7 linked regions of the Homo sapiens genome follow. The protein of the gene in region 5 purifies or fractionates together with the protein of the main gene of each other region. This does not show direct contact. Each region holds a gene or a part of one and is shown on either strand. Other genes may lie near its edges. The genes, in order: DDX17, AMOT, USP1, NDFIP1, WWTR1, CREB3L2 and JUP.

Evidence for each region.
Region 1: the proteins of WWTR1 (region 5) and DDX17 purify together in Homo sapiens (co-immunoprecipitation; one study listed by IntAct). This does not show direct contact.
Region 2: the proteins of WWTR1 (region 5) and AMOT purify together in Homo sapiens (affinity purification with mass spectrometry; 3 studies listed by BioGRID and IntAct, with this or other methods). This does not show direct contact.
Region 3: the proteins of WWTR1 (region 5) and USP1 purify together in Homo sapiens (affinity purification with western blotting; one study listed by BioGRID). This does not show direct contact.
Region 4: the proteins of WWTR1 (region 5) and NDFIP1 purify together in Homo sapiens (affinity purification with western blotting; one study listed by BioGRID). This does not show direct contact.
Region 6: the proteins of WWTR1 (region 5) and CREB3L2 purify together in Homo sapiens (co-immunoprecipitation; one large-scale study listed by IntAct). This does not show direct contact.
Region 7: the proteins of WWTR1 (region 5) and JUP purify together in Homo sapiens (co-immunoprecipitation; one study listed by IntAct). This does not show direct contact.

The regions. Positions count from the first base shown.
Region 1 is NC_000022.11:38,499,311-38,503,522, forward strand, and holds part of DDX17 (probable ATP-dependent RNA helicase DDX17 isoform 1 precursor), read right to left. Parts: intron 1,971-4,212; coding exon 1,820-1,970; intron 190-1,819; coding exon 90-189; intron 1-89. UniProt on the Homo sapiens protein: As an RNA helicase, unwinds RNA and alters RNA structures through ATP binding and hydrolysis.
Region 2 is NC_000023.11:112,819,916-112,824,127, forward strand, and holds part of AMOT (angiomotin), read right to left. Parts: intron 3,274-4,212; 5' UTR 3,212-3,273; coding exon 2,340-3,211; intron 1-2,339.
Region 3 is NC_000001.11:62,443,113-62,447,324, reverse strand, and holds part of USP1 (ubiquitin carboxyl-terminal hydrolase 1), read right to left. Parts: intron 4,167-4,212; coding exon 4,006-4,166; intron 2,588-4,005; coding exon 1,896-2,587; intron 1-1,895. UniProt on the Homo sapiens protein: Negative regulator of DNA damage repair which specifically deubiquitinates monoubiquitinated FANCD2. Also involved in PCNA-mediated translesion synthesis (TLS) by deubiquitinating monoubiquitinated PCNA.
Region 4 is NC_000005.10:142,114,768-142,118,979, reverse strand, and holds part of NDFIP1 (NEDD4 family-interacting protein 1), read right to left. Parts: intron 1-4,212. UniProt on the Homo sapiens protein: Activates HECT domain-containing E3 ubiquitin-protein ligases, including NEDD4 and ITCH, and consequently modulates the stability of their targets. As a result, controls many cellular processes.
Region 5 is NC_000003.12:149,521,617-149,525,828, forward strand, and holds part of WWTR1 (WW domain-containing transcription regulator protein 1), read right to left. Parts: intron 1-4,212. UniProt on the Homo sapiens protein: Transcriptional coactivator which acts as a downstream regulatory target in the Hippo signaling pathway that plays a pivotal role in organ size control and tumor suppression by restricting proliferation and promoting apoptosis.
Region 6 is NC_000007.14:137,991,685-137,995,896, reverse strand, and holds part of CREB3L2 (cyclic AMP-responsive element-binding protein 3-like protein 2), read left to right. Parts: intron 1-4,212. UniProt on the Homo sapiens protein: Transcription factor involved in unfolded protein response (UPR).
Region 7 is NC_000017.11:41,780,000-41,784,211, reverse strand, and holds part of JUP (junction plakoglobin), read left to right. Parts: exon of another isoform or gene 1-231; intron 232-4,212. UniProt on the Homo sapiens protein: Common junctional plaque protein. The membrane-associated plaques are architectural elements in an important strategic position to influence the arrangement and function of both the cytoskeleton and the cells within the tissue.

The sequences.
Region 1 (4,212 bases), on a different chromosome or scaffold from region 5:
AAGCCTGGCTCAAAGAGTTTAACCTACTACCCTTGTCTCCCATTCAACCCAATTTAACAAATTAAGGTTCTAGATTGAAGAACACTTACGTGGGAAGTTAGCATGATGGAAGGCAAACACGGGTTTAGGACAAACATCTCCCCCCCTCACTGTAATCTCCTTCTTTCGGCGTAGCTCATCAACCTCATACTATTGAAAAAAAATGAAAGAAGTTAGTAAACTAGTTATTCTAAACATTCAGAATTTATGTTCCAAGCTAGCTGAGCAATTATCCAGTCCACAGCTATGTTGGCAAATATTTAATAGTTTACATGGTACTTTCATGTGTATCACTTTAACTCTGCAAGGCTCCTACTTACTTTGTAAGTTAATTAATGATGTAGGTGATTAAGAGTTCCATTTTCTATAGGAGAAAAAAGATAAGTAACTTGCTCAAGGTCAGAATGAGAAGGAAAAAAAAGTGGAACTTGGACCCAAGTACTCTTTCCATTACACTTTCTTCTGAAAGAGTAACCATTTCATGTGTAGAGTCCAAAAAACAATGGTAATGAGGTACAAGAAGAGACAATGTTGGCTGGGCACGGTGGCTCCCACCTGTAATCCCAGCACTTTGGGAGGCTGAGGTGGGTGGATCACTTGAGGTCAGGAGTTTGAGACCAGCCTGGCCAACATGGTGAAACTCCGTCTCTACTGAAAAAAAAAAAATAAATAATAAATGAACCAGGCGTGGTGGCACATGTCTGTAATCCCAGCTACTCGGGAGGCTGAGGTGGGAGAATTGCTTGAACCTGGGAGGCAGAGGTTGCAGTGAGCCAAGATCATGCCACAGCACTCTAGCCTAGGGGACAGAGTGAGACTTCACCTCAAAAAAAAAAAAAGCCAATCTATCTTTTTCACTAACAGATGAAAAAACATGACCTAATATACAATATTTCAATCATGTATAATAAACAGATTAGTAAGCATTATCAACAAGAGAACAAATTAAATGCATATTTAAACTGGTCCCCTTTTATGAGTATTAGGGGTCTTAGATAAGAATGTAAGAAAGGCTGGGCATGGTGGCTCACACCCATAATCCCAGCACTTTGGGAGGCTGAGGCGGGCAGATCACAAGGTCAGGAGACGGAGACCAGTCTGATCAACATGGTGAAACCCTGACTCTTGCACTCCAGCCTGGGTGACAGAGCAAGATTCCGTCTCAAAAATAAAAAGAGGCTGGGCGTGGTGGCTCACGCCTGTAATCCCAGCACTTTGAGAGGCTGAGGCAGGTCGATCACCTGAGGTCCGAGGTCCGGAGTTTGAGACCAGCCTGCCCAACATAGTGAAACTCCATCTCTGCTAAAAATACAAAAAATTAGCCGGGCATGGTGGCGGGTGCCTGTGATCCCAGCTACCTGGGAGGCTGAGGCAGTAGAATCGCTTGAACCCAGGAGGCGGAGGTTGCAGTGAGCCAAGATCACACCATTGCACTCTAGCCTGGGCAACAAGAGCAAAACTCCGTCTCAAAAAAAAAAAAAAAAAAAAAAAAAAAAATCAGCTGGGTGCAGTGGCTCACGCCTGTAATCCTAGCACTTTGAAAAGCTGAGGCAGGTAGTTTGCTTGAGCTAGGGAGTTCAAGACCAGCCTGGGGAATATGGCGAAACCCGGTCTCTACAAAAAGGAAAAAAAAAAAAAAATTAACCAAAAAATTTTTTAAGAAAAATATCACCACACTAGAATAAAATGTAAAACGGCAACAGTAGCGTATGAATAAACTCTAACCAATATATCTACTTGGTTCAATAATCTGTACATTAAAACACACATGTAAACTTACTGGTGTCAGCCTTGCTACTTCCGGATGTTCCACATAAAAATTTTTCTCAAACTTGGGGAGCTCACTCAAATCCCACTTTTTTTTACGCAAACGCTCCCCAGGATTACCAAATTTCTTCGGGGGAAGGCCACCACCACCTCTTGCTCCAAATCTAGGAACAGAATTTTTAGTTAGTTCATCAGTATTTTTAAAGCAACGTATCGTACATGCCATAAGAATATTCAAAAAGGATGGAGTTCTAGGGATACTACCAGCCTACCTCCAAAAAGACCATTTTATTTGCTGTGATTTAAAGGTATGGAGAAATGTGTAAAACCTCCCTTACTACCCAACAATAAATACTGTTTATGAATATAGCTACAATAGGCAAAAAATTAAAAATCCCTTTATTGAGAGAAATACATCCTAGGGATTACAATCACAGATTCTGGATCCAGACATGGTTTGAGTTTTTATTCTGCCACTTACTGTATAATTTGAAGAGAATTATTTAACTTCCACACACCTTAGTTTCCTATGCAAAGTAGAAATAATACCACTTATTTCAGAGGCTGCTGAGAAAATGACCTAATAATGTGTAATGTACTATAAAAGTATCTGGCATAGCCAGCACTCAGTACAAGTTAGCATCATTTCATTCAACAAATAGTTATTAGGTACCAAGTTACTAGGTACCAAGTATGTATCGGCTACTGTTTGAAGTGGTGCTGTGCTGGAGTTACTAAACAAAACAGACACAAGTCTCTATTTTTGTGTAACAGACATGCAGGCAAAGGATGACATTAAGTTAAGTTTCAATTAAAGGGAAGATTGTGGACAAGAAGGAAGATACACTCCAAGCAAGTCCCTCAATCTTAGAATAGCTTCTTGGGCCTGCTCCCCTATTAAACTGTGATAAGCACTCCACCTGTCTGCTTATCTGCAAAGCAAAACTGGGTCTTGGAAAGGACTGGTAGACTGGTCTTCATTTTTAGCTTACGCTAATAAAAGAGCTGAGCCTGCCGGGGGCAGTGGCTCAGTCCTGTAATCCCAGCACTTTGGGAGGCGGAGGCCAGTGGATCACTTGAGGTCAGGAGTTTGAGACCAGCCTGGCCAATATAGTGAAACCCTGTCTCTTACTAAAAACACAAAAGAGTAGCCAGGCGTGGTGGTGCACGCCTGTAATCCCTAGCTACTTGGGAGGCTGAGGCAGGAGAACCGCTGGAACTCGGAAGGCGGAGGTTGCAGTGAGCTGAAATGGCACCATAGCACTCCAGCCTGGTAGACAGAGGGAGGGTCCGTCAAAAAAAAAAAAAAAAAGCTGAACATAGATTTATGACCTTTCCTTCTTCTTTGATCTCTACTTTTACCTTCTATCTCCTTCTTGTTCCCAAATGGTATTATTAATTTACAGAGAAAAAAACACTAACAAGACTTATTTAAGGCTTTAACACTCAACTAATTACTTAAGATCAACTTCTTGCTTTTTATATACCTTTCACAACAGACAAGCTCAAGAGGAATACAAATATGACCACTAGCCAAAGCTAATATTTAAGAAATCAGAAGCTACTTTTCCTAGAAGAATCTTAACACTAAGATGGCCTTAATTTTCCCTATTTCGATCTTGTAAAGTACAGGTCTTTGTTTGGCATACAAACTGTATAGCATTTTCTCAGTTTCTTTACTCCTTGTAAAATATTGTACTGAATTTAGTTCCCTTTTCCCACTCTAACCCACTTGTAACTTCATCTTATATAAAGTTCCACTTTATCATTGATAGGCAAGTAGGTGTATTATTCTACAGGGCCTCAATTTCCTGCAATTCAAAGCCATTAGAACTCTGGCTTAACCAGCCAGACATTCCTCTAAATACATACGTAACAAAAATTGATGGCAGGAGATTTTATTGGGATCACTGGATACCTACACTCAACAGGCAGAACTTGGCTAATTCCATTTATACCACTACTGAGACAGTGAAGACAAATTAAGAATCAGAACAGGAAGAGCACATAGCATAGGGATACCCGTGTCAGCGACATATTTAATATGCCCCTCAGCTTAAGACTCAATACTGAACAGACCAAAAGGCCACCTCAATTGCCGCTCCCGCCACACTTGCAAATGAAGCAGCTAAATAAGGTACTTTTCAAGAGGTAGAAAGTCTTTGGATTATCACTCTTGCAAATTATAAAAGACTTCATTGTTATTGCCACATTGCAATGCTACCCAAACCTTAGTGACTTAGGAAAAAATAAAACTTGAAAGTAAGATTCCTGTTAAGGCTTTAAACTGATGATTATCATTCATGTATTTTTTTTTCCTCTCTCCTTACTTCCCTGGCTATTTATTCAAGACATTCTATTCTACACTAAACATTTAATTTGAAACATGTGGTTCTTGGAAAATAT
Region 2 (4,212 bases), on a different chromosome or scaffold from region 5:
GCAGCAGTTACTTGGAAAGGTACTCACAAACTGTATAGCTAGTTGGTTAAAGGAAATAAAGGAGGGAAAATGTGTCACCACCTTAAAGCAGTACACTTCTGGAAAGCAGTTCAACTACCTCCTTTTGCCAGTAATTTGTCAATAGGTGCCACTCCCTCATGTAGGGCCCTGCAACAATTTTACGGCCAGTATTTGCCTGATGCAGACCCAAATTTCATATGGAGCATCCTCCCACTAGGGCCATTTTAGGTTTGCTTATTCATCAAGCATTATCAAGCACTCTGCTCCTTTCCCATAGAGAAAAACCTGTTACAGCAAAACTGTGTATTAAAATGCTGCTCAACAAGGGTAGATCATCATGGGCTCTGTTGCTTTTGAGGACAGAAAGAAAGAGAAATCCACAGATAACTTAGGTGGGAGGATAAAAAATATGTATCTTCCTGTAAAATACATGCAGCTAAATTTCTCCGGTGGTTTAATCAGGATGGGAAGAAAAGGAAAAAAAAAGAAAACCTCTTTGGGCTCCTCATTATTTATTTAGGCAGATCAAAGGGCAGATAATTTTCCATCTAGCTTCAAACACTGTGGGAGTCATTTCAGATCACAAACAATACTGGTGAATGAGTTCTGAAAATAGCTTTCCTGGGAAGGCGGGCTGTGTGCTGAGTGGGGCTGTGGCTTCTGCTCCACACCCCAGCCAACACACTCCCCTCCCACAAGGCAACAGACATCAGCCCATCAACAGACTCTTCCATACTGATGGGAAAAGCAAAATAAAAACCCCCAGCTTCATTGATATTTTGCTGGCTTGAATGGGTTTCCACTAAGTGAGGCAGTCTTGAACAGACCAACCCCTCCCTGGGTCTTCTGTTTCATTGGTCAGATGGGAATCTGGTTCTTGATCTCTTTTAAACCTGAGTAGCCTTGTTGGTTACCCCATTTCCTGTTCCAAGACACTGATCAGAACATAGGCTCCTGCCCTTTGAAAGCTGCACAGAGGAGGTTGAAAAGGGTTAGGAAATCAACCTGGGTTAAGAGGGAAAAAAAAAAAAAAATCCTAAACTGGCAAAGTTAGAGGTGGAGTCCAAAGTGAATTGCCTCTGGCTACAAAAACAGGACCTGCAGGGGAAAAAAAAGAAATACCAGGAAATGCTAGGTGCCTTCTCTCACTTTCACCCTACTCCACCCCATGACTGCCTTCTCTCCTGAGTCACTCAATGAACTTCAAGCCAGAAGGTTTTTTCCAAAATGAGCAAGTAGGGTACAGGAGACAAAGAGGTAGACATCAAAGGACATCACAGACCTAGTCTGTGAGCCGCATATAAATGAAGGCCAGCCTAGGACCAAGCACTTCAAACCTGATGGTCACCCATCATTACTCATGGCCATGAGGCAGGATACCACACTTAAATGCCACCATCGGTCCCCATGGTTTAAACCTTTTCTCCTGCCCTATATGTGGAAATACTACTGATCAGAGACATGGCCCAAATACTAACAACAGGAACAATGAACAGAATCATAGAATCATAAGGTCTAGTGAATATAGCAGTGGGACAATGGACCTCTGAATAATTAAGAAGTATATATAGGAACAACTAAATATATAAGACAGAAATGGTAATATTTTTCCTTCTGTATTTTAGCATCTGACCAAAATTTCTATATGATGTGATGGGAATTTAACTCAGAGGTTTAAAAATGTGACAGGCAACTAATAAATTCTCTACAAAAAAAAGATACAACAGTCCAGATTTCATAAACTGCAAGCATAAGGCAAGTAACATTCTGAACCTACATACATACATAGCTCCCCCACCATAACATCTGGGTGTTTGTTTAGTCCAAAAGAATAATGGTAATTCTATGGAAAAATGGTAACTGACAAGAAATACACAGATTTGTTTGCAAAAATAAATGATGAAAGCTTCATGGAGGGGAATATGTGCAAGTGATAGGATGTTCCAGACTAATTAAAGTGCAAGGTAATTTGCTTCTACCTCTCAAGGAGGGCTTATGAGAAACACAGACCCCTTCAACATCCTAGGAGAGAGGACAGCAAATAGCTGCTGAAAACAAGACTTTTGCTCCTGTTCGTCCACTAGGCAGTTGAGGCCATGCTCAACCTACAAAGCTAAGGGATTGTTAATACAGTGCTAATTATGGCTAAAGAGGATACAAATTCGGGTTGGCAGGCAATTCACGAAGCCAGAGGCCTGTCATGCATTGCAGAGTTTGTTATATCAAACACCTGCCCGTTCCTTCCCTAAGATTCCCAACACACAGCAGAAGCTGGTTGGGGATGAGGTCAGGAAATGACAGAAACAGAACTCTCTTACCTGGCTGCTCCATACTCAGGGGGATGCTGATACCTCATCAGTTGCCCCTCTGTTCTCCCTGGCTGGTTCAGGCGATGCTCACTATAGAAGTGCCCTGGCTCTTGGGGCTTGCACACTACAGATTGGGGTGGCATGCCCTTGAAGGGATATTCTGGTGGGGGGCCTCGGTGTTCCATGCCCTTCAGGCTATGCTGGTTAGGAAGTGGCCCTTGGGCCTTGTAGAATTCACTGGAACTTGTGGGATTCTTGTAGAGGTCATTGGGTTGTGGTGGGGAGAGGGGAGCACTGGTAACAGGTGGATGGGCCTTAACTCCACTGGTGGCCAGTGACATCTGCATTAGTCGTTCACTCAAGGAACGGACATGCCCTTGCTTAAGGTCTCTGAGTCCCTCATCTTGGTGCATCTTTCCAGGATTGAGCCGCTGAACTGATGGGCGTCCCTCAGTCCTCATCTTCTGGTTGGTGACTCCAGTGACATAGAAGGCAGCTCCAACACTGGCATGCTGTTGGCCCCGAAAGTACTGGGACTGGACCTTGGCTTCTTCATAGGTCGGGAGTTCTTCATTATTTTGCATTCGAGGAGACAGCTGCTTCTCCATGATGAGGTTTTCTGACTGGATTTCCTGCCCCTGGGGTTCTTGTCGAGCAGCATGAGCCACAAGCTGTTGGTGGTGGTCTTGGGGACTCAACACATCACTCTGAGGGCCCGGGTTCCCACTGCCACTGGGGAAAGGAGGGCCATTCCCTGTGGCTTGCTGGTGTATGGCAAGCAGGCTGCGATTCTCACTAGGATTGCCATAGCGAAGCTGCTCTTGTAGCAAACGCTGCAATACCGTGGTCCCTCCACTTGGCTGTTCTTCAGAATTTCTCATCTCTATTGCTGGTGGTGCCTTGTGAAGAGAGAGAGAAATTGGGCACCTGGGCTGCCCTTGACCTGGGAAGGGGAAACAGGAAGCTTAACACCCAGTTGATGGATAAATCAGTCCTCTAAAGGGAAAGAAAATGGATATTGGAGGGTGAGGATTCGATTGCAGAAACAAAGTAGAGAATTGACTCTAAAATTAATAGATTGTTGGGGATTCCAGGCCCTAGCACTGATATGATGAAGAACATGGAGGCATAAGAGCTCTAGGTTTTCTCTTTCACTTTTAGCATGAGTTAAATATTCAATCTGGACTTAACTCCTAAGAATGCTTGAGAAACCTGGAACAGTCAACTAGGGTAATCAAAGGGGGTAACTTTTCAAGGTCCATATTCACAGGCTTCATCTCTCTGTATTCTATTTAAAGCAAAAACCCAAATCTTATGGCTGTGGAGGTGGGGGCAGGACAGTGGGGAAAGTTACCCCATAACAGGATTTGTAAAGCAGCTCAGCATATGAAGGCAGCTACAAAATGCAAAATAAAGACTCAAATAAATAAAAGGTGAAGAGAGCTTGGCTTGCACCAGACAGTAATGATCCCTGCCTCGATGCAAATCTTTTTCTCTGATCTCATAAGGCTCTGAAACATCTTTTTAAAAAATCATTTTCATAGTCTCCATTTTGGATGCTCCTTGGCTTAATAAGAGAAGGACTTGGAATACTTATTACTGACAAAGTTGCCTTTCAGCTCTCCAGAAACAGTCATTTAGATTTGCTGTTATTGTTATTGGGTAGAAGCTTAAAGGGGAAGCCTCTTTTATTTGAAGTGTGCCTCTGACAAAATTTAGAAATTGAAAAATATAAAGATCATCCTTCTGGAAAGGGTATACGATTAGCATATCCCCTCCCTCACCATCAATTCTTCTGAACAGGTACTATGGGTTGACTGAAACTGATTTTAGTAACACAATTTAATATTCAAATTCTAATCATACTATTGGTTTACAGGGT
Region 3 (4,212 bases), on a different chromosome or scaffold from region 5:
AAAATGTAAGTCTATACAGATTAGTTTCTCATTATAGTCCAAATAACCAATTTTCCATTTAAATAAAGTATATCATGAATAACAGTTCCATTTTCATAGATCAGCTTATTAGCATTATTAGCTTATTAGAGGTACCCTATTAATGAAATTTAAGGTCCCTGTAAAGATAAAACTGACTATGAAATTACTGTCTTTAAAAGAAGTCAGTTGTAGGCCGGGCACAGTGGCTTAAGCCTGTAATCCCAAGACTTTGGGAGGCTGAGGCGGGCAGATCACCTGAGGTCGGAGTTCAAGACCAGCCTGACCAACATGGAGAAACCCTGTCTCCAGTAAAAATACAAAATTAGCCGGGTGTGGTGGTGCATGCCTGTAATCACAGCTACTCGGGAGGCTGAGGCAGGAGGATCGCTTGAACCCGGGAGGTGGAGGTTGCAGTGAGCCAAGATCATGCCATTGCACTCTAGCCTGGGCAACAAGAGCAAAACTCTGTCTCCAAAAAAATAAAAAAAATAAAAAATAAAAAAAAGTCAGTTGTATTGTAACTCCCTTCCTACAGACACCTCCCCATAGAATAAACCCAGAATAAGGATGACATTTTTGGTAAAACTATTCACTATATCAATATTACACATTTTCCCTGATATCTGTAGATCTGGACAAAACTAGGTAAAAATCTAGTTCAAGTATCGTGTAACTTACAGTTATGCACCACCTACCAACGTTTCAATTATTTAACAATGGACCGCATATGACAGTAGTCTATGATTATTTTTACTGTACCTATGTTTACATATCTATGCTTAGATACGTCTTAGATACACAAATACCATTGTGCTACAGTTGCCTACAGTATTCAGTAGTTATATGCTATACAGGTTTGTTGCCTAGGAGCAATAGGCCATGCAAAGCTTGCCTGTAGCCCGTAACAAATTCATAAACTTTCTTAAAACATTATGAGACTTTTTTGATTTTTTTTTTTTTGGCTCATCAGCTATCATTAGTGTATTCTGTGTGGTGTGGCCCAAGACACTTCTTCCAGTGTGGCCCAAGGAAGCCAAAAGATTAGATACCCTGGTCTATACCATATAGGCTAGTTGTGTAGTACGCTCTAGCATCTAGTTGTGTAAGTACACCGTGAAATTCACACAATGAAACAGCACATTTCTCAGAACATATCCCTGTTGTTAAGCAACACATGACTGTACTTAGTCTTTACTTTTAAAATTTCACTAAATGCAATGTCCTTCATCAGTTTATGTCAAACACTGCATAAAGGGAAATGTACTCTTAAATGTACATTAAAATATACTGAACTTCCCTACTTTATTATTATTTGTTTTTTTTTGAGACGGAGTCTTGCTCTGTCGCCCCAGGCTGGAGTGCAGTGGCATAATATTGGCTCACTGCAACCTCCACCTCCCGGGTTCAGGCGATTCTCCTGCCTCAGCCTCTCAAGTAGCTGGGACTACAGGCGTGCGCCACCATGCCTGGCTAATTTTTGCATTTTTAGTAGAGACGGGGTTTCACCATGTTGACCAGGCTGCTCTTGAACTCCTGACCGCAGGTGATCTGCCCGCCTAGGCCTCCCAAAGTACTGGGATTGCAGGTGCGAGCTAACATACCTGGCCGAACTTCCCTACTTTATAAGCTATAAATTAAAATTACTTTAATGACATTACACACACACACACACACATATATATGCATACAATATATACACACACACTAATCTAAGCATAGCACTTAAAACACCATAGTTCACATTCAGTGTTAAATTTCCTTCTCTTGAAACAATTTTAGCCAGAGATTATATTGTACATGTATCTAGGAAGAGAAAATTCTAATTCTGTAGCTGCTAATGCTTCTACCTATCAAAGTCTAAGAATTATACTAACCTTTGTTTATGGGTTTAACTTCATTAACATTTACAGGTGTAACAGTATTTCCTGGAGATTCAAGTCCACAACCATTAGTTGTGTTATCACTTTCACACTTCCCCAAGTCCTCTTCAGGATCACATTCATTTTCTTTAGATTGTCCTTTGACTCCTTGGTTTGTTGTTATTTTTCCCAGACTACAAAATTTAGAAAGAATGCTGGGTTGCTTAGTTGCAGACTTTAACCAATTTATTTTAACTCTTGATTTCTTTTGTGAGGGTCTTGGACTCTCATTTTCAGAAATATACTTGGGAATTATTTTAGGAGGACTCTCTAATGTATCACTTGTAGCTTTTCTTTTTGATCTAGTTTGTCTCTGGTTCTCTTCCAATGACTGGTGTTCCTTGGATAATTTAACTTTTTTCTTCATGTTACCAAATTCAGTGTCACTTTTTCTTTTCCCATTTCCTTTTGGGAGTTTCTCTTTAAAGTCTTCAGAATGCCTCATACTGTCCATCTCTATGCTGTTAATACCATTCATTTCCTCTTTCGGATGAGGTATTTCTTCTACCTTAGTAGGTAATTCTGCCACATTTTTTACTTCTTCTTTTTTTAGGAGTTGGCATGTTTCTTGAATGTTTCCCAAAATACATTGTAATACTTCCTGTGCATCATGCTGTAGATATCCTTCATACATAGGGTTGAGTTCCCTATAAATAAAAATTTCCATTTCATCTATTCTAGTTTTGAAGATACAGTACATAAAGCCTATATAGAAATTAATTCATGTAAGGAAAATCATAAATTATTTCATTTTTTAAATGTCAAGACATTTATTCAGCACTAATTTGGAATTTCTTATCTGTAACTAAAAGTAAGAGTAAATTGTACCCTATTTTCATTATAATACTTTGATCCTCTTCTAAATATATTAATAACTAATACTTAGATAATGCTTACCATACACCAGGTTTTAGTCAAAATGTTTTTTATCTCCTATGTATACATTATCTTCACAATAACCCTATGAGGTACTATTATCACCATTACTGACAGATACAAGCACTAAGGCACAGACAGGTTAAATAACTTGCCCAAGGTCACAGAACTACTTAGGATGAAAAGCCAGTATTCAAACCCGCTCTTGGCCACCACGCTACAATGGCCTTTTTTTTTTTTTTTTTTTTGGAGACAAGGGTCTTGATCTGTTGCCCAGACTGGACTGCAATGGCGCAATCTTGGCTCACTGCAACCGCCGCCTCCCGGGTTCAAGCGATTCTCCTGCCTCAGTCTCCCGAGTAGGTGGGACTACAGGTGCAAACCACCACACCCAGCTAATTTTTGTATTTTTAGTAGGGGCAGGGTTTCACCATGTTGGCCACACTGGTCTTGAACTCCTGACCTCAAATGACCCACCTACCTTCACCTCCCAAAGTGCTGGGATTACAAGTGTGAGCTGTGACCGGCCTACAATACCTCTTAACTAAGGTATAGCAATATATTGCACCTAGTTCTATTTTTAAACTAAATGCTTAAGTGATTGTTTTAAAGACTTGCCCTATAATTGTATTTGAATAAGGCTATTTTATATGTAAAGTTTCATTTTTAAGAAAATACCAAAAAGCAATCTAATCCAGTTAGCCAACAGTTCTCCTCTAATCACATATAAAAATAGAATATTTGGAATTTACAGTTCTTACACATATTTTGAATATAGTCCTATAATTCTTAATGTGAAATCCTTAGGACCACGCATTTAGAAATTCAGACATTTTCAGATTCAATGATTATATGGCATATAAGTAAAATATTTATCACCGACTTGATATGGGAGTACTCTATAACTAAACACATTACTACTTCTATAGAAGCATGTATGAATATTCACGTTAGAGATAAATATGAATGACTATAAAAAGCCTCATATAATATGTTCAGATCTAACGAATTTAGCACCAAATTTATGAAAAAAATTTCCAGTATTCAGAGTCTCTGGGATATAAAGGACTGTGGACCTAGAGTTTCTACTTTCCTTGCCCTTTATTCCTGTTTCTTCGCATGTCATTCTCCTCCAAGGATATAAACAAGTAGCTAAATTGAAACCCTAAAATTATATTATAGGCTATACCTCAGTGTGTTAAGCAGTCGCCTTGGCTGAGTGGCAAGTTCATCAGTATATTTCTCTGGATTTAAGAGAAAACTAGCCTGGAGCTGTTCAACCGAAATGATTAAGGACTGTAAACTGCATATCAATTCATAACTTGCCAAAGAATCTTCTTTGCAATTTCCCTGTCAAGAAAGAAACACACAAACCAATAATTTTATGAACAAATTA
Region 4 (4,212 bases), on a different chromosome or scaffold from region 5:
TTATTTTTCAATAAAAGGAACCTAGGCTCCTTGGAAAAATGCCTGATTCTAGGATAGTGCAGGAAATATATAAGATGAGCCTAGTGCCAAAAAGTATGGAAGTGGTTAAAAAAAAATCCACAATGATGGAGGTATGCAATTTAAGCAATAAAATAAAGCAGTTATTGGATAATTGGAAGAATAAAATAAATATTTATGAGTCTATACAGATATAAATACTAAACAAATTATCAGAGCAGAGACAAATGCCCCATGCAGGAAATTCCAAATAATTCATGTCAATACTTGGCCCTCAGCGAGGTGTTACATAACTCCCCACTCCTTATGTGTGGACCATGCATAGTGACTTCCTTCCCAAGAGTAAGTATGGAAAGTGGGGTAAAACGTATCTTTACAGAAGAGAAACCTGAGAAACACTACCTCAGCCAGGTGATCAAGGTCAATGTCAACAATGATAAGTCATGTTGAAAGTGTGCATTCTTGATATGATGTGATGAGAACAGCACTTTACCTGTGGTCTTCCCCCAAATCCACAGCCCCAGTCTAATCATGAGAAAAACATCAAACAAACCCCAATTGAGGGACATTCTACAAAGACCTGACCAATACTCCTCAAAACTGTCAAGCTCATCAAAAACAAGGAAAGTTTGAGAAACTCACAGCCAAGAAGAGCCTAAGGAGACAGGACGACTAAATGTAACATTACCACATTATATCATCCTGGATCCTGGATGGGATCCTGGAACAGAAAAAGGACATTAGGTAAAAACTTAGAAAATCTGAACAAAGTACAGACTTTAATTGATAACAATGTACTAATATTGGTTCAATAATTGTGAAAACCGTACCATACTGATATAAGATGCTAATAGGGAAAGCTGGGCATAGGGCATATGGAAACTCTCTACTGTCTTCTCAGTGTTTCTGAAAAATTAAAAATGTTTCAGCTGGGTGTGCTGGCGTGTGCCTGTGGTCCCAGCTACTTGGGAGGTCAGTGGGGGAATGATCGCTTGAGCCAAGGAGTTTGACGCCAGCCTGGGTAGCAACATAGCAGGAACCCATCTTAGGGGGAAAAAAGTTCCAAAAAGTAAAGTCTATTTGAAAGTACAGATTTATTTAAAAAACATTTAAAGCCAAGGAAAGGTTAAGAAGAAAGCCTGAAGATGGAGGGTTGCAGTGAGCCGAGACTATGTGGCTGCACTCCAGCCTGGGTGCAGAGTGAGGCCCTGTCTCAAAAAAAAAAAAAAAAAAGCCTGTAGAACACACACCAAACTTGAGGAGCAGTTACAGCTCTGCAAAGAGATAGGGAGGAAAGGGAAATCAAGTTTTTCTTTAGAAAGTTACTGTTTGAATCTAGCACATGAAGAATGTATTACTATTTAATACAAAATGCTTAATTTTAAATATCACATTTAAGCATCGAATGATAAAATGAAATCGGCCAGGCGCAGTGGCTCACACCTGTAATCCCAGCACTTTGGGAGATGGAGGCGGGTGGATCACGAGGTCAAGAGATCGAGACCATCTTGGCCAACATGGTGAAACCCCCTCTGCTAAAAATAGAAAAAATTAGCTGGGCGTGATAGCGGGCGCCTGTAGTCCCAGCTACTCAGGAGACTGAGGCAGGAGAATCACTTGAGCCCAGGAGGCGGAGGTTGCAGTGAGCTGAGATTTCGCCACTGCACTCCAGCCTGGCGACAGAGTGAGACTCCGTCTCAAAAAAAAAAAAAAAGCAAAAAAAGAAAATGAAATCATTATTAAACAGGCACCACTCCCTAAACCCTTATATCTCTATTCATAAATTGTCCAGTCTCCAGATAGACCTCCAAATTGTATTCAAGCCTTTGATTATGGTAAGTACTAATTAATATTGCTGAGATAAACTAATTTAAAAGACAAAAACAGAAAAATGGTCAAAGATTATGCTAAATTGCTCGGGGAGGGGGATAAGAAATATATTATACATATGGGCCGGGCACGGTGGCTCATGCCTGTAATCCCAGCACTTTGGGAGGCAGAGATGGGCAGATCACTTAAGGCCAGGAGTTCGAGACCAGCCTGGGCAACGTGGTGAAACCCCATCTCTACTAAAAATACAAAAATTAGCCAGGCGTGGTGGCATGCACCTGTAACACCAGCTACTTGGGAAGCTGAGGCACGAGAATCTCTTGAACCCAGGAGGCGGAGATTGCAGTGAGCAGAGCTCTCACCACTGCACTACAGCCTAGGTGACAGAACCAGACCCTGTCTCAAAAATAAATAAATAAATAAATAAAAAAGAAGAGGAGAGAAGAGAAAAGAAAAATACATATGAAGGTAGCCTGGGCATGGTGGCTCACACCTGTAATCTCTGTAAGCCAAGGTGGGTAGATCATTTGAAGTCAGGAGTTCGAGACTAGCCTGGCCAACATGGTGAAACCCCACCTCTACTAAAAATACAAAAATTAGCCGGGCCTGCTGGCGGGCACCTGTAGTCCCAGCTACTCCAGAGGCTGAGGCAGGAGAATGGCTTCAAACTGGAAGGCAGGGGTTGCAGTGTGCCAAGATTGCGCCACTGCACTCCAGCCTGGGGAACAGAGCAAGACTCTGTTGAAAGAAAGAAAGAAAGAGAGAGAGAGAGAGAGAGAAAGAAGGAAGGAAGGAAGGAAGGAAGGAAATAAATAAATAAATATACATATGAAGGGAACTGCATTAATAAGAAAATATTTCACTAGGAATGCTCTTAAACTTGATCAGTGCTAGTATTTAGGACATTTAATATAAATTATGTTATTCAGAAAAATCATGAGTAAGCCTTATTGTAACAGCAGGATGTGCTAAGTGATATCAAGTTACACTTGCTTTACTACCACTCTTGGTCAAGTTAACAAGACATATCATACAGTCATCCCTCAGTATCCACTGGGAATTGGTTCCAGGACTCCCCACAGATACCAAAATGGGAGGATGCACAAGCCTCTGACATAAAATGGTATAGTATTTACACATAACCTACCTCATGTACTTTAAATCATCTTTACTTATAACACTTAATACAATGTAAATGCTATGTAAAATAGCTGTTATAGTGTATATTTTACTTGCACTATTATTTATTATTGTATGGTTATTTTCCCCTATTTTCAATCTGCAGTTGGTTGAATCTGCGAATGTAGAACCTGTGGATACCCAGAGCCTACTCTAACTCATACCCCCACCTAGCCAACCACTAGAAGCAATTACCACTGGAAAGTATGTCAAGCCCAAAAAATTTCATACATGATGTTTGCCAGTTGCCTAGCTTATTGGCAACAATGACTTGAAAAAAAGATAAACCATCATGCCAATTTTCAGTATGAATGGAACAGAAGTATTAAAGTTGCTTTATCTAAATTGTCCATTATTATAAGAATATAGGCCGGGCGCAGTGGCTCACACCTGTAATCCCAGCACTTTGGGAGACCGAGGCGGGCAGATCACTTGAGGTCAGGAGTTCAAGACCAGCCTGGCCAACATGGTGAAACCCCATCTCTACGAAAAATACAAAAAATTAGCTGGGCGTGGTGGTGGGCACCTGTAATCCCAGCTACTCAGGAGGCTGAGGCAGGAGAATCGCTTGAACCTGGGAGGCGGAGGTTGCAGTGAGCCGAGATCGCGCCATTGCCTTCCAGCCTGAGCAAGAAGAAAGACACTCCATCTCAAAACAAACAAACAAAAAAGAATATAATTCTTCTAAGCTGTTGTACTTGCTTAAAGGTAAAACAAGAACATTTTAAGAAACCAAAATAATTATTTTAAAGCCCTAAAAACAAATAAATCTGAGGATGTCACTTGAATCTCTTGGAGACTTTTTTTCTTTCTTAATAAAAATATGAAGTTATTCTCATGGTAGGATTTACTTTATAATCTACCATAAAATTATGAAATATAATTAATGTCTAGGATAAAACAATTTGAAGTTATGTGCAGTTAAACTACTGGTGGCATCAGCTTAGAGCAAAATTCCCTAGAGCAGTTCAACTGGGCCTTGGTTTCTGCCCAAACCAGGAAGCACTGCCCTATTTTCAGGACACAGATAGTATGATTAAGCCAAATAAATCTTGCCTAACAAGTGGTCACCCATGGGATCAGGTAAGAAAACAAGGATAGATTAACAGGAATCTATCACTGCTACAAAAACAAAGCATGAGGCTTGGCAAGAGTGAGCCCAATCAATACAAAGGACAGTTAGTT
Region 5 (4,212 bases):
CTAAACCCATTTAATCACCTAAACCTATTTTGGCAGTATGTGTATTCAAATAAAACTGAAGTTCTACAGAACACAGGTGAGAAAATGCTGTACTAGAGGAAAAGTAGGTGTCTGGGATATGACATGAAGAATATAGGTTCTTTATGTGTCATAGTATGGGACAGAATGCACTACTGACTTTGGTGTCATTAGATCGAGCTTTGTGGCTGTGTAAGCTTAGACACACTTAACCTGCCTGATTCTCAGTTTACCCATCTAGAAATTGGGATCATATGCTCCTTTTACAAAAGTTAGAGTAAAGTGCCATATAGTGTCTGCCACATATCCATGGCTCTGGGTGTCATTGATATATACAAAGTTATATACATACAAAAATATAATAAATGTTCATTGTCCTGAGAGAAAGAAAAACCCAGGTCTTCAGCCACTATTAATTACACAATATCAAAACAACAGGTTAATTCAAAAAGTCCCAAACAATTTTCTGAAGAGATAATATCTACTTCAAAAATTGAGAAGCATTGATAACTAAGGCCAGCTTCCACCATAACGTCATTTTTTAAAAACTTGTTAAATTATCTTTTGTGTGTTACAAGTGCAGTAGCCTTCCTGAAACGTGTGTAGGGAAGTTTCACTATTTTAAGCAAAATTGCCGAAAGTTCACTTTAGCAATCTGTGTTTTCCAGGGAGAAAAATTATATCCTTCCAAATGATGAAGGAACCATCATCCAATTTGGATTTTGGTGATAGCAAAACACAATGGCTTTTCTAGAAGTCACAAAATATAAATGACTCCTGGGTAACATTTTACAGTATTTTCATTGCAAAGGGTAGTAAACTGAAAAATTAAATCAAATTCAACAATATGACCTCAATATAGTGTTACTGATATTGAAAAATAACGTTAAACGAAAAAACAAAATCCAAAATAACTTTCTTCTACTTACTAGAGTGTAACAGATAAAAATGAGGCTTTAAAAAGTGTCTAAAAAACAATCTGATCTAATGTGCTGGATGCCTTTTTTTCTCTTCATCTCCAGTTAGAATCATTCATTTTTACTAATTTCCCATTTTAACTTTCAGATACTCAAGAATATAATTTTTAGCCAAGCAAAATCTCTGTTTTAAAGAATTCCTAGGCCGGGTGTGGTGGCTCATGCCTGTAATCCCAGCACTTTGGGAGGCCGAGGTGGGTGGATCACCTGAGGTCAGGAGTTCAAGAACAGCCTTGCCAACATGGTGAAACCCTGTCTCTACTAAAAATACAACAAACAAACAAACAAAAAAACCCCAAAAAAACAGTGCCAGGCATGGTGGCGCACCCCTGTAATCCCAGCTACTCAGGAGGCTGAGGCCCGAGACTCGTTTGAATCCAGGAGGTAGAGGTTGCAATGAGCTGAGATCACACCACTGCACTCCAGCCTGGGTGACAGAATGAGACCCCGTATTAAAAAAAAAAAAAAAAATTACTCTTATCCTTTCTTCTCAGGATGGAAGGCATGAGGATACTGGCTAAGCTTCTTCATTAAAGTTAACAATCTTAAAATAGAAGCAGCTCTGCAATCTCATAGTAATCTTTTTGGTCTTTGCAGTTTATCCACTTAAAAAGTGGAAGAGACAAACACAAGGCAATTCTTTTTTTTTTTTTTGAGATGGAGTTTCGCTCTTGCTGCCCAAGCTAGAGTGCAATGGCACAATCTCGGCTCACTGCAACCTCCGCCTCCTGGGTTCAAGTGATTCTCCTGCCTCAGCTTCCCGAGTGGCTGGGATCACAGGCATGTGCCACCACGCCCAGCTAATTTTGTATTCTTAGTAGACACAAGATTTCTCCATGTTGGTCAGGCTGGTCTTGAACTCCCAACCTCAGGTGATCCACCCACCTCGGCCTACCAAAGTGCTGGGATTACAGGTGTGAACCACCGTGCCCAGCCACAAGGCAATTCTTAAAAGGGTGTGATTACTGCAGAATATTCTGGAAGGATGGATGATTTCCCAGCCTTTGCTCATGTTATTCCCTTTACTGGATCTTCGCACCAAGCCCAGCTGTTGCTGCCATGTATGTTTTGCAAATGGAGTGCTCAGCTGGCTCGTTTCCCTTCAGCATGTGGCCAGCGCGTGGTCCACAGGCCTGATAGATCTTTTCTAGCCACACTTGAGCTCTGCCTGCCCCCACAGCTTCCCTCATTTTGCTACTGTATAATTAACATTTCTCCCCTTGAGAAGATGTATGTCCAGTTCCTACAAAGACTTCACAGAGGTGGCCCCACACTCAATGAGCTGACTCTAACTTAACCAGGTTAACTTGGCACTCACATTCCCACACTCAATGAGCTGATTCTCACTTAACCAGGTTAACGTGGCACTCTGACATTATCAAGTCCATTGTATGTATGACATCAGTCTTCTTACTGGAGAAGAGCACTTTGAGCTGGTCTCTGTGATCTCATGACTCCTCACAACTCTGCCGTGAGCATATCACTCCCACTTTATGGGTGAGAAATCTGAGGCTCACGGAGGTTATGCAACTTACCCAAAGGCGCTACTAGGAATGGAGAAGCAAGGATTCAAATCAGGCTGCCTGTTGGCTAAAACTATGTTCTTTTCAGGACGTCATTTAATTCCACATTACGGCTTCAAAATAAAACACTCCCTACTTACCCACTTGAGGTTATTTTAAAGAGACATAGAGTAGAATCCATCCTCTTTTATGGTTTTTTTTTTTTTTTTTTGAATGTCAAACTTAGATTTAGATCTCCTGAGCTTTTTTCCTTAACTTTGCTTTTTATCCTTACTGGCTTCCCAGTGTTTAGAAGATGAAAGTAAAGAATTATTAAACATAGGAAGGAGCCACTTCCTAAGGCTATTCCAAAGATAGCAAAATAAATCTCACACTCAAAAAGCAGAGAGAGAGATAAAGGTGGCAGGGGGTGGTGGTGGGGGAAGAACTGAAGTAATAAACTGAAGAACAGTAAAACAATCAGTGCAAACTATTCCTGTGTCACTCCTCACAAGATAGTCTTTGCAATCTTCTCAATGCAAAGATGACAACCTACACGAAAGACGCCAGGGGAGCAGCTTTAATGTACTGCATTTGTAAGACACCTGGCTATGAGTTTGACTCTTGATCTTTCCAACAATTTAGACTCACAACACAAAGAGAAGCCATCAAAGAGTAGAGTGTAAAAAACTACAGGCACTATGGCAAACACTTTGGGGGAAGGAATTTTTTATTTTCAACACAAAACAATTACTTTCGTCAATGATAATGGAGAAGGAACTTTCATGAATAACTCCAAATAGTGGACACCCTGGCTGTCATTTATTTTTGGTTCTAGAATATCTTCTTAGAGTTTATGACTTTCATAATTAAGTCTAGGTAAGGCTAATAAGACTAACTTCAGTTTCTGCAATTGGAAGTCTCACTCCTTGAGAAAAGGAGAAAAAGAAAGGTAATCGGGAAGCCTGGTGAGGCTGGACCTGAAGGATGCACAGGCTGGGGACAAGGTAAGAGTAACCCTGACTCTCTTCTCTTTAATTCCTGAGGGAGGATGTCGTTACCATGTTGGAACTTGGAAGTGACAATTTTGAATCCTCTGAGTTGCTCAGCATTCCAAATACCCACTGCCAATTGCTTTTCAAATGCAGTGAATGACATGAAAAAAATTGGATACTAGAACTATAAACCAGTGTCACTTTCCAGGAGAAAGGGTGGCCCATATATTACAACTAAAAACTAGAACAGCATAAATACCCCAATGTGGAAACATGGCAAACAAACAGTGGTGTCTTGATGCAATTGTGAGGAAGGGACTATATGGAGCAAAGATGAATTAAAAAAAAAAAACAACAGAATTTAAAATCCTGCGCCCAGATGTAAAACTATACTTGTATAATCTATGAGGAAGGGGCTACAGTTTATTAATAGTGCCTGGGGGTTCAGTGGCTTTTCAGCTGTTATTTTATGTTGTCGTTGAGATTGAGTGTTTCTGGTTGGATTTTAAAATTGAGATGACCGTACTCGCTCTGGCAGCACCTATACTAAAACTGGAATGATTAGCATGGCCCCTGCATGAGAATGACATGTAAATTCATGAAGCATTCCATTTTTTTTTTTTTCAACATTTTTACAGACACTCGGGACTACTGGGAGTGGGGAGGAACAAGGGGTGAAAAACAAACTATTGGGTACTATGCTCACTACCTGGGTGACGA
Region 6 (4,212 bases), on a different chromosome or scaffold from region 5:
AGGCACAGTCCTGAAAGATGAGAGGGCAGTACAGAGTTTTATATTTGCCCTCCTTCTCGAATGATCCCTGAGTTACAGTGTTCATGGGAAACAGGGGTCTCTGATGTGACATTGCTTTTGCAGGAGTTATAAGATATAGCATCTAGATTAATAATTGAATTAATTACAGTGCTTGCAGCTAGAAGTAACTGAAAATGGATTCAGATCGGCTCATACAGTAAGTAAATTATCTCATGTTGCAAGAGGTTGTGAAATAGAGCCCCTGGCCGGGCGCGGTGGCTGACGCCTGTAATCCCAGCACTTTGGGGGGCCAAGGCAGGTGGATCACAAGGTCAGGAGTTCAAGAGCAGCCTGGCCGAGATGGTGAAACCCTGTCTCTACTAAAAATACAAAAATTAGCTGGGCGTGGTGGCGGGCGCCTGTAATCCCAGCTACTCGGGAGGCTGAGGCAGGAGAATCCCTTGAACCTGGGGGGTGGAGGTTGCAGTGAGCCAAGATCATGCCACTGCACTCCAGCCTTGGTGACAGAGTGAGATTCTGTCTCAAAAAAAAAAAAAAAAAAAGAAAGAAAAGAAAAAAAAAGAAATAGAGCTCCTTGTTGGCTGATTCAGCAGTTCCTCAATGGACCTTGGTTCTGCCCATGTGCAGCTTTCATCCTCAGGTTGGATGTGTGATGGACATAGGAGTTACAGGGGTTACATTCAAAATGACAACATCCAGAGGAAGAAGAGAAGTTGTCTCTTTCTTGTGTCCCTTTTTTAGAATGGAAGAAACTTTTCTTACTAGCCCACTAGCTGATTTTTCTTAAAGCTTTATTGGTAAGGATTCGGTCATATGACCATTCTTAAGCCAATGGCTGGAAAGGAGAATGGGATTTATATTATCAGCTTAGATTAATCATATGGGGATGGAGACTCAACCAGCATGACCATTGGGATCATTAGTAAAATAGTCTGAGTTAACAATTCTTTCCTTAGTCAAAAGGTATGTTTCTTTTCTCATGAACATGGGCTAGCAACTAGAAAATTTAAAATTCACAGTAATTTGCCCTGGGCGCAAAACAGTAAACCCAAGTACTGTGCCACTCGCAGAGTTCTTTTGTTTTTTGTTTTTAAATAGAGACAGGGTCTCCTTATGTTGCCTAGGCTGGTCTTGAACCCCTGGGCTCAAGGGATCCTCTGCCTCGGCCTCCCACAGTGCTAGGATTACAGGCATGAGCTATCACGTCCGGCCCAGCAAAGTTCTAAGAATATTATTTAGCTGTGCTACCAATGCCCAGTGAAAGAAGACTATAGATGTAGAAATAGCCTCTTGAAAGTGCAGGGAAAGGCTAGGGAGGGGTGGGAGCCAGGAGGAGATTATGGCTATGTCTTGACTCACTAACTAGGAGATGTAGAATTAACTGTATTATCTGGACTCTTGGCGTCAGAGTAGAATACCAGGGCTGGAGGTAGCTAGCTGAGCCTGTAATCATGCTTACCATGCAGGACAAGAATGATTTGTTCTGTTTGGGATCGACAGCAGGTGGCAAGCTAAATGCCATTTTTCAAAGAAGCAATTTTTCCAGTTGCATATGGCTGTTCAAATATTGATGAGGGCACATGTGCCTGTCTGCAGCTAAAACTGCCGGCCTCAGCCTGACATGGCTCTACGCTGTCTGGTGACTCTCTTGGGGTAAATAGCCTTAAGCCTTAGCTGGGCATTTGGTAGGATTGAGGCCTATGGTTGCAGGGCATCTGAATTGTCCAAATGAGTGATCTTATGAGTGAGGGAGTGCTGCCCTTGTTTTCTGCCCCTGTGGAATCAGGATGGAAAGGAAATAATGAGACCCACTGTCTCTGGATCAACCTTGAGCCTATTTCTCTTTTTCCCTGCTCAGTGGATGCACCCTGGCCTTTCTAAATGAAGTGCTAAGGGATCTTGATTTTTCCTTGAATCAAATTGTATAGGTTATTCATGAGGCACATGGGAGAAGATGGGCCATTTTATCTATGGGGAATGTAAGACATAGAGCAGTAGAGATTTGCTCAGCACAAGTTCCTTGAGGACAGGAGACATGACTGTCTCTTCTATACCCTCATGGTCCTTAGTCAAGTGCAGGATGCCCAGAGAATCGTAAGTGCTTGATGCATAGTTAAGTAGAGTGAGGCAGTCCTGGAAAATGGATAAGCTGGGTGGCTTTGGCCTGTTTTTATATATTTTTAAAACTCTGGGCAAGACGTGGTAGCCCATGCTTGTAATCCCAGCGCTTTCAGAGGCTGAGGCAGGAGGATCGCTTGAGCCCAGGAGGTTGAGTTTACAGTGAGCTGTGATCACGCCTCTATACTCCGGACTGGGCAACAGAGTGAGACCCTGTCTCAAAATAAATAAATAAATGAGCAAACAAACAAATAAACTCTGGATTCTTGTAAACGGTTTTGCAAATGTGAAAATTCAGTATAATAGTGACTTGGGTAATTCAGTGTTGATATCTTTTCTTGTTTTGATTAGAGAACAAGGTGGGCGTGGGGTGATTGAAACAGTCCCTGTTTCCAGTGGGAGTGGAGTTGATGGCATGGTGGAAAGGGTGGGCTTTCAAGGCAGGCCATTTTGATGTTGAGGGACACAGGCTCTCTGGTGACCTTGGGTACATTACTTCACCTATTTGGATTTCAGTTTCTTTGCATGTCACTGCCTGATCCATAATAGAAGTACTTTTCCAACCTATCCCCTAAGTCAAATGTCTTCTCTTTGAGAACAAGGTGTCCCAACCTTAGGAGTCTGACATCATTCAGAAAGTGGAGAGAGCCTGTCATTATTCTCTCTCATGCATCTTTATTTCCTCTCCTCTCCAGCTCCTACATTGTGCTGTAAACACAGGCCTCTGCCTTGAACACATGTTTGCCAGATGCTCCCTCTTACTCATTTCTTTTCTCTTGTTTACTGCCAGGTTTTCTCAAGTGCGTGGTCACCAGCCATGGCCTCCATTTCCTTAGTCTCTACCCTGTATCCTCTGCCCGCTGGGTCCTACTGCTCAACCTCTCCCTGGCTGCTAAATCCAATAGTCTTTTCTCTGTCCTTACCTGCAGGGCCTCATGGGACTATTTGGCAATACTGACCACAGGATTGTCTCATAACTCGTTTTTGCTTTGGCTTCCATGACACTCTGGCAAGCTTAGTTCTTCCTCCTTTTCTGGCTTCCATACCAGCTGTTAAATGTGAGTGTTTTGGTACTTGGCCTTCTCTTCTCTCTGTATGTTCCCCTGGGCTCTGCTATAAACTTCAGTGCATCTGGTTCTCAGTTTTTTATACTTGTTATTTGTCTTTTGACGAAAAGCAGATCTTTGGAGTTTGACTCAAGCCTGCTAGGTCCACCTGAGCAGCAGAACAGCTCTGGCTGGGTAACCCTTGAATTTTCATGTGTTTCTTGATGTGTTTCAAAGAAGAGCTGGGATGTTGATCCTTCTTATCGCTGCACCCATTTATCTCAGGGCATGTTGAGTGACTCAGCTCTCTTGCAGTGTAAACCCAAGAGGAGCTCATGGGTCATTCCTGGGATTCAGCTGCTTCTACAGTCCGTGTCACTCATTAGAGGCAAGCTGTGTTTTGCCTAGACTTTTGCTTGTACTTTGGCTTGGGAAACCCTCTGTGGCATCCTGTGGGGGTAGGTCTAATCTTTTCGACTGTGTGGAAGGTCAATTCAAAAGTGAGACGTAACTTCTTAGATCACGTACCATATTTTCCTCTTGTGTGTACAGCTGCTCTGGGGCTCAGCTACAGTTACCTCATGTTGAATTGCCTGCTTTTGAGTTGCTGTATTCTGGTGTAGGTGTAATCTGTTTATTTGAACTTTACTGATATTACGAAGAGCTTTGGGGATTTTTTTTTAAAGAATTGAGATGGGTTATTCTGAACCATCCATATTTTAATGCCCGATTCTTGTTAGAATTATTAACAGTAGTTCTTGGAAGAGAGTTTTTCTTTGGAGGATAAAGCTTTTTTTTTTTTTTGAGGCAGAGTCTTGCTCTGTTGCCCAGGCTGGAGTGCAATGGCGTGATCTTGGCTCACTGCAACCTCCATGTCCCAGGATCAAGTGATTCTTGTGCCTCAGTCTCCCGAGTAGCTGGGATTACAGGTGCCCACCACCATGCCTGGCTAATTTTTTGTATTTTTAGTAGAGACAGAGTTTCGCTGTGTTGGCCAGGCTGGTCTCAAACTCCTAGCCTCAAGTGA
Region 7 (4,212 bases), on a different chromosome or scaffold from region 5:
GGGCTAGGGCTGCCAACCTTTTTCCCATCCTGGAGCCACCTTAGAGTGAGATGGGTCAATTGACTAGTCTACAGAAGGACTGTTTATTTGGAGAGATGGGACAGTGGGGCAGTTCTGAGCACAGGGCTTTGGGCTTGAACTGAGCTGGGTTTGAGACCCAGCTCTGTCTCTCATTACCTGAGCCTCAGTGACCTCTTTGGCAAAATGGGAATACTAATACCTATCTACCCAGTAAGTACTTGACAAACGGTAACTCAAGATCAAGGTAAGACTTTACAGAAACCAAGCACTTTCTTTTTTTTTTTTTTTTTTTTTTTTGAGATGGAGTCTCGCTCTGTCACCCAGGCTCACTGCAACCTCCGCCTCCTGGGTTCAAGTGATTCTCCTGCCTCAGCCTCCTGAGTAGCCAGGATTACAGGCGTGTGCCACCACCCCCGGCTGATTTTTGTATTTTTAGTAGAGACAGGGTTTCACCATGTTGCGCAGGCTGGTCTTGATCTCCTGACCTCGTGATTCGCCCGCCCCGGCCTCCCAAAGTGCTGGGATTACAGGCGTGAGCCACCTCACCTGGCCCAAACCAAGCACTTTCATTAACTATTTTTACTTAATCCTTATGGCTGGCCAGGCTGGATGGCTCAGACCTGCAATCCCAGCACGTTAGGAGGCCCAGAAGGGTGGACTGCTTGATTGAGCCCAGGAGTTCCAGACCAGCCTGGGCAACATGGAGAAACCCTGTCTCTACAAAAAAATAGAAAAATTAGCCGGGCGTGGTGGTGCATGCCTGTGGTCCCAGCTACTGGGAATGTTGAGGTGGGAGGATTACCTGAGCCCAGGGAAGTCAAGGCTGCAGTGAGCTGTGTCACTGTATTCCAGCCTGGGCAACAGAGTGAGTCCCTGACTCAAAAAAAAAAAAAAAACAAAAAAAACGCGTATCATTATTCGCATTCTACAGAGGAGGAAATTGAAACTCAAGGAACTTAAGTAATTTCCCCAATGTTGTACAGCGAGACCCAAGCAGCACCAAGACTGACGTTTGGGTCCTCTGATTCCAAGCCCAGAACCCATCCTGCTGTATTGCCCCATGCAGCTCTGGAAAGGATTTTTTTTTTTTTTTTGAGATGGAGTCACGCTCTGCCACCCAGGCTGGAGTGCAGTGGCGCGATCTCGGCTCACTGTAACGTCTACCTCCTGGGTTCAAGCGATTCTCCTGTCTCAGCCTCCCGAGTAGCTGGGATTACAGGCATGCACCACCACACTAGGCTAATTTTTGTATTTTTAGTAGAGATGGGGTTTCACCATGTTGGTCAGGATGGTCTCGAACTCCTGACCTTCAGGAGATCCGCCCGCCTCAGCCTCCCAAAGTGCTGGGATTACAGGTGTGAGCGGAAAGGATTTTTCTGCACCCCCTTTTGAGAGCCTCTGCCTGACTGGGGAGAAGAGAATTCAGAAGGGCCCATGAAGGCATGTGTGAGTGGTGAATGTAGGGCAGGTTTTGTAGGTGGGGGTGATACCTGTCCTGGCCACCAGCCCACTTAAATCTCCCCAGTGGCTTGATTTTTAGTTTCCGGTGGAAGCGGCTTCTCCCCAAGGCCAGGGCTGTGGTGAGTGTTGGGGGGAGGTTGAGAGGGAAAGAGGAGGCAGGGGTCAAAGCTGTGCTGCCTCCTAGCTTGGGTTAGGTAGAACCATGGCTGTTCTGGGCTTGTTCATGTGTAGGAAGTGGGAGTTGCCTGCTTTGCTGGGGGCTGGGGCTATGCCAAGATAAAGGGGTGCTGCCCTGTGGGGATTGGCGAGAAACGAGAGTCCGATTTAGGCCTGGGCTAATGTCCTGCTGGAGTTGACGAGGCAGTGCTGCCAGGCTGCTCTTGATGGGGAACTGGCTGTCCTCTGCTCTGAAGCCCAAGAGACCTGAGATAGGCAGCTGCTGGGAGGGCTTTTCTGGTGATGGAGGTGGGGGTCATGTGTGCTGCCTGTCAGCCAGAGCCTTGGCCCTCTAGGGAGGAGCTGGTGTCAGATTGTTCTCCAGACCTGCCTGGTTCTGGTGTCTCTGCCAACTGGACATCTGACACCAGAATGGGCCTGGATTTGGGGTCTGGGAAATGGGTTCTCTTTATGTGATGGTGCAGCCGGAGTACTGAACCTGTCACTACCGCGCTTCTGGATTCCCTGAGGGCAGGCGGGGACCCCAGGCAACGGGATTATTGATCGTGGAGAAGGCTAATGGGACTTGAGACAGAGAAGAAAACAGAATGAACCCCATCCCACTGACTACTACAAAGAGGGCATGAGGTTGCAGTTTTTCCATCTCCCCCGAGGACTTGAGAGCTGCAGGCCCGATGCACTTACTGAAGGGACGCAGTCTAGACAGGAGGAGGGGCTTTCTGCCTGCTAAAGATGAAATCTTGAGTTGAGAAATAAGAGGGAGAGGTGGAGACTCAGCATTGACTCTTCTCTGATGAGGGCCATCCTGTGCGGCAGGGAGGCCAGACAGGAATTGCTGCCCTTTGGGGAGACTCCTCATTTGTATCTTTTGGGAGAAGAGCGACCTGGCAGTGAGAGGGAAAGGCATCTGTGAGCTGGTCCTGTGACCCCTGTGAAGAGGAAAAGCAAGCAGTGTGGCTGGGCAGGTCACCAGGGCTTGTGTTCCTGCAAGTGACACTGAGCGGCCTCTCCTGGGACATGGTTGAGTCTGGGGACATGGAATATCTTATTGTGAAGCGACTTCCTCTGCCAGGCCTGAAGGGCAAGCTCATGGACCACTCTCCTTTGCTCAGCCTCCTGGCATCTTGGCCTTTGGGGCCAGCAGAGCAGGAAGCTCAGCTTTCTTTTTCTCTTTCTTTCTTTCTTTTTTTTTTTTTGAGATGGAGTCTCTCACTCTGTCACCCAGACTGGAGTGTAGTGGCACAATCTTGGCTCACTGCAACCTCCATCTCCCGGGTTCAGGTGATTCTCCTGTCTCAGCCTCCCGCGTAGCTGGGACTACAAGCGCCTGCCAGTACGCCCAGCTAATTTTTTTTTTTTTTTTTTTTTGAGACGGAGTCTCACTCACTCTGTCGCCCAGGCTGGAGTGCAGTGGCACGATCTCCGCTCGCTGCAAGCTCCGCCCCCTGGGTTCACACCATTCTCCTGCCTTAGCCTCCCGAGTAGCTGGGACTACAGGCGCCCGCCACCACGCCTGGCTAATTTTTTTGTGTTTTTAGTAGAGACGGGGTTTCACTGTGTTTGCCAGGATGGTCTCGATCTCCTGACCTCATGATCCACCCGCCTCGGCCTCCCAAAGTGCTGGGATTACAGGCGTGAGCCACTGTGCCCGGCCTAATTTTTGTATTTTTAGTAGAGACGGGGTTTCACCATATTGGTCAGGCTGGTCTTGAACTCCTGACCTCAGGTGATCCACTCACCTTGGCCTCCCGACATGCTGGGATTATAAGCGTGAGCCACCGCTTTTGGCACTCAGCTTTCTTTCCTCCTCCCTTCTCCTCTTCTCTTTTCTTTCTTTTTTTTTTTTGGTTTGTTTTTTGAGATGGAGTCCTGCTCTGTCGCCCAGGCTGGAGTGCAGTAGTGCAGTCTTGGCTCACTGCAACCTCTGCCTCCTAGGTTCAAGCAATTCTCCTGCCTCATCCTCCTAAGTAGCTGGGACTACAGGCATGCGCCACCATGCCCAGCTAATTTTTGTATTTTTAGTAGAGATGGGGGTGTCACTATGTTGGCCAGGCTGGTCTTGAATTCCTGACCTCAAGTGATCCACCCACCTCAGCCTCCCAAAGTGCTGGGATTACAGGCGTGAGCCACTGCGCCCGGCCTTCTTTCCTTTTTTTGAGGTAGGGACTCGCTCTGTCCCTTAGGCTAGAGTGCAGTGGCGTGATCACAGCTCACTGCATCCTTGAATTCCTGGGTTCAAGCAATCCTCCCGCCCAGCCTCCCAAGTAGCTGGGTCCACAGGTGTGCACCACCATGCCCAGCTAATTTTTAAAGTTTTGTGTAGAGACAGGGTCTTGCTATGTTGCCCAGGCTGGTCTTGGACTCCTGAGCTCAAGCATTTGTCCCATCTCAGCCTCCCAAAGTGCTGGGATTATGGGCATGAGCCACCATGCCCAGCTGAAGCTCAGCTTTCTGTGTCTTTCCCTACCATGGAGACAGTAGCAGGGACCAGAGCAGAGTTGGGACAGGGGCTTGGCAATCAATAAGCTGCTTATTTAGGGGAGACTCCTCCTC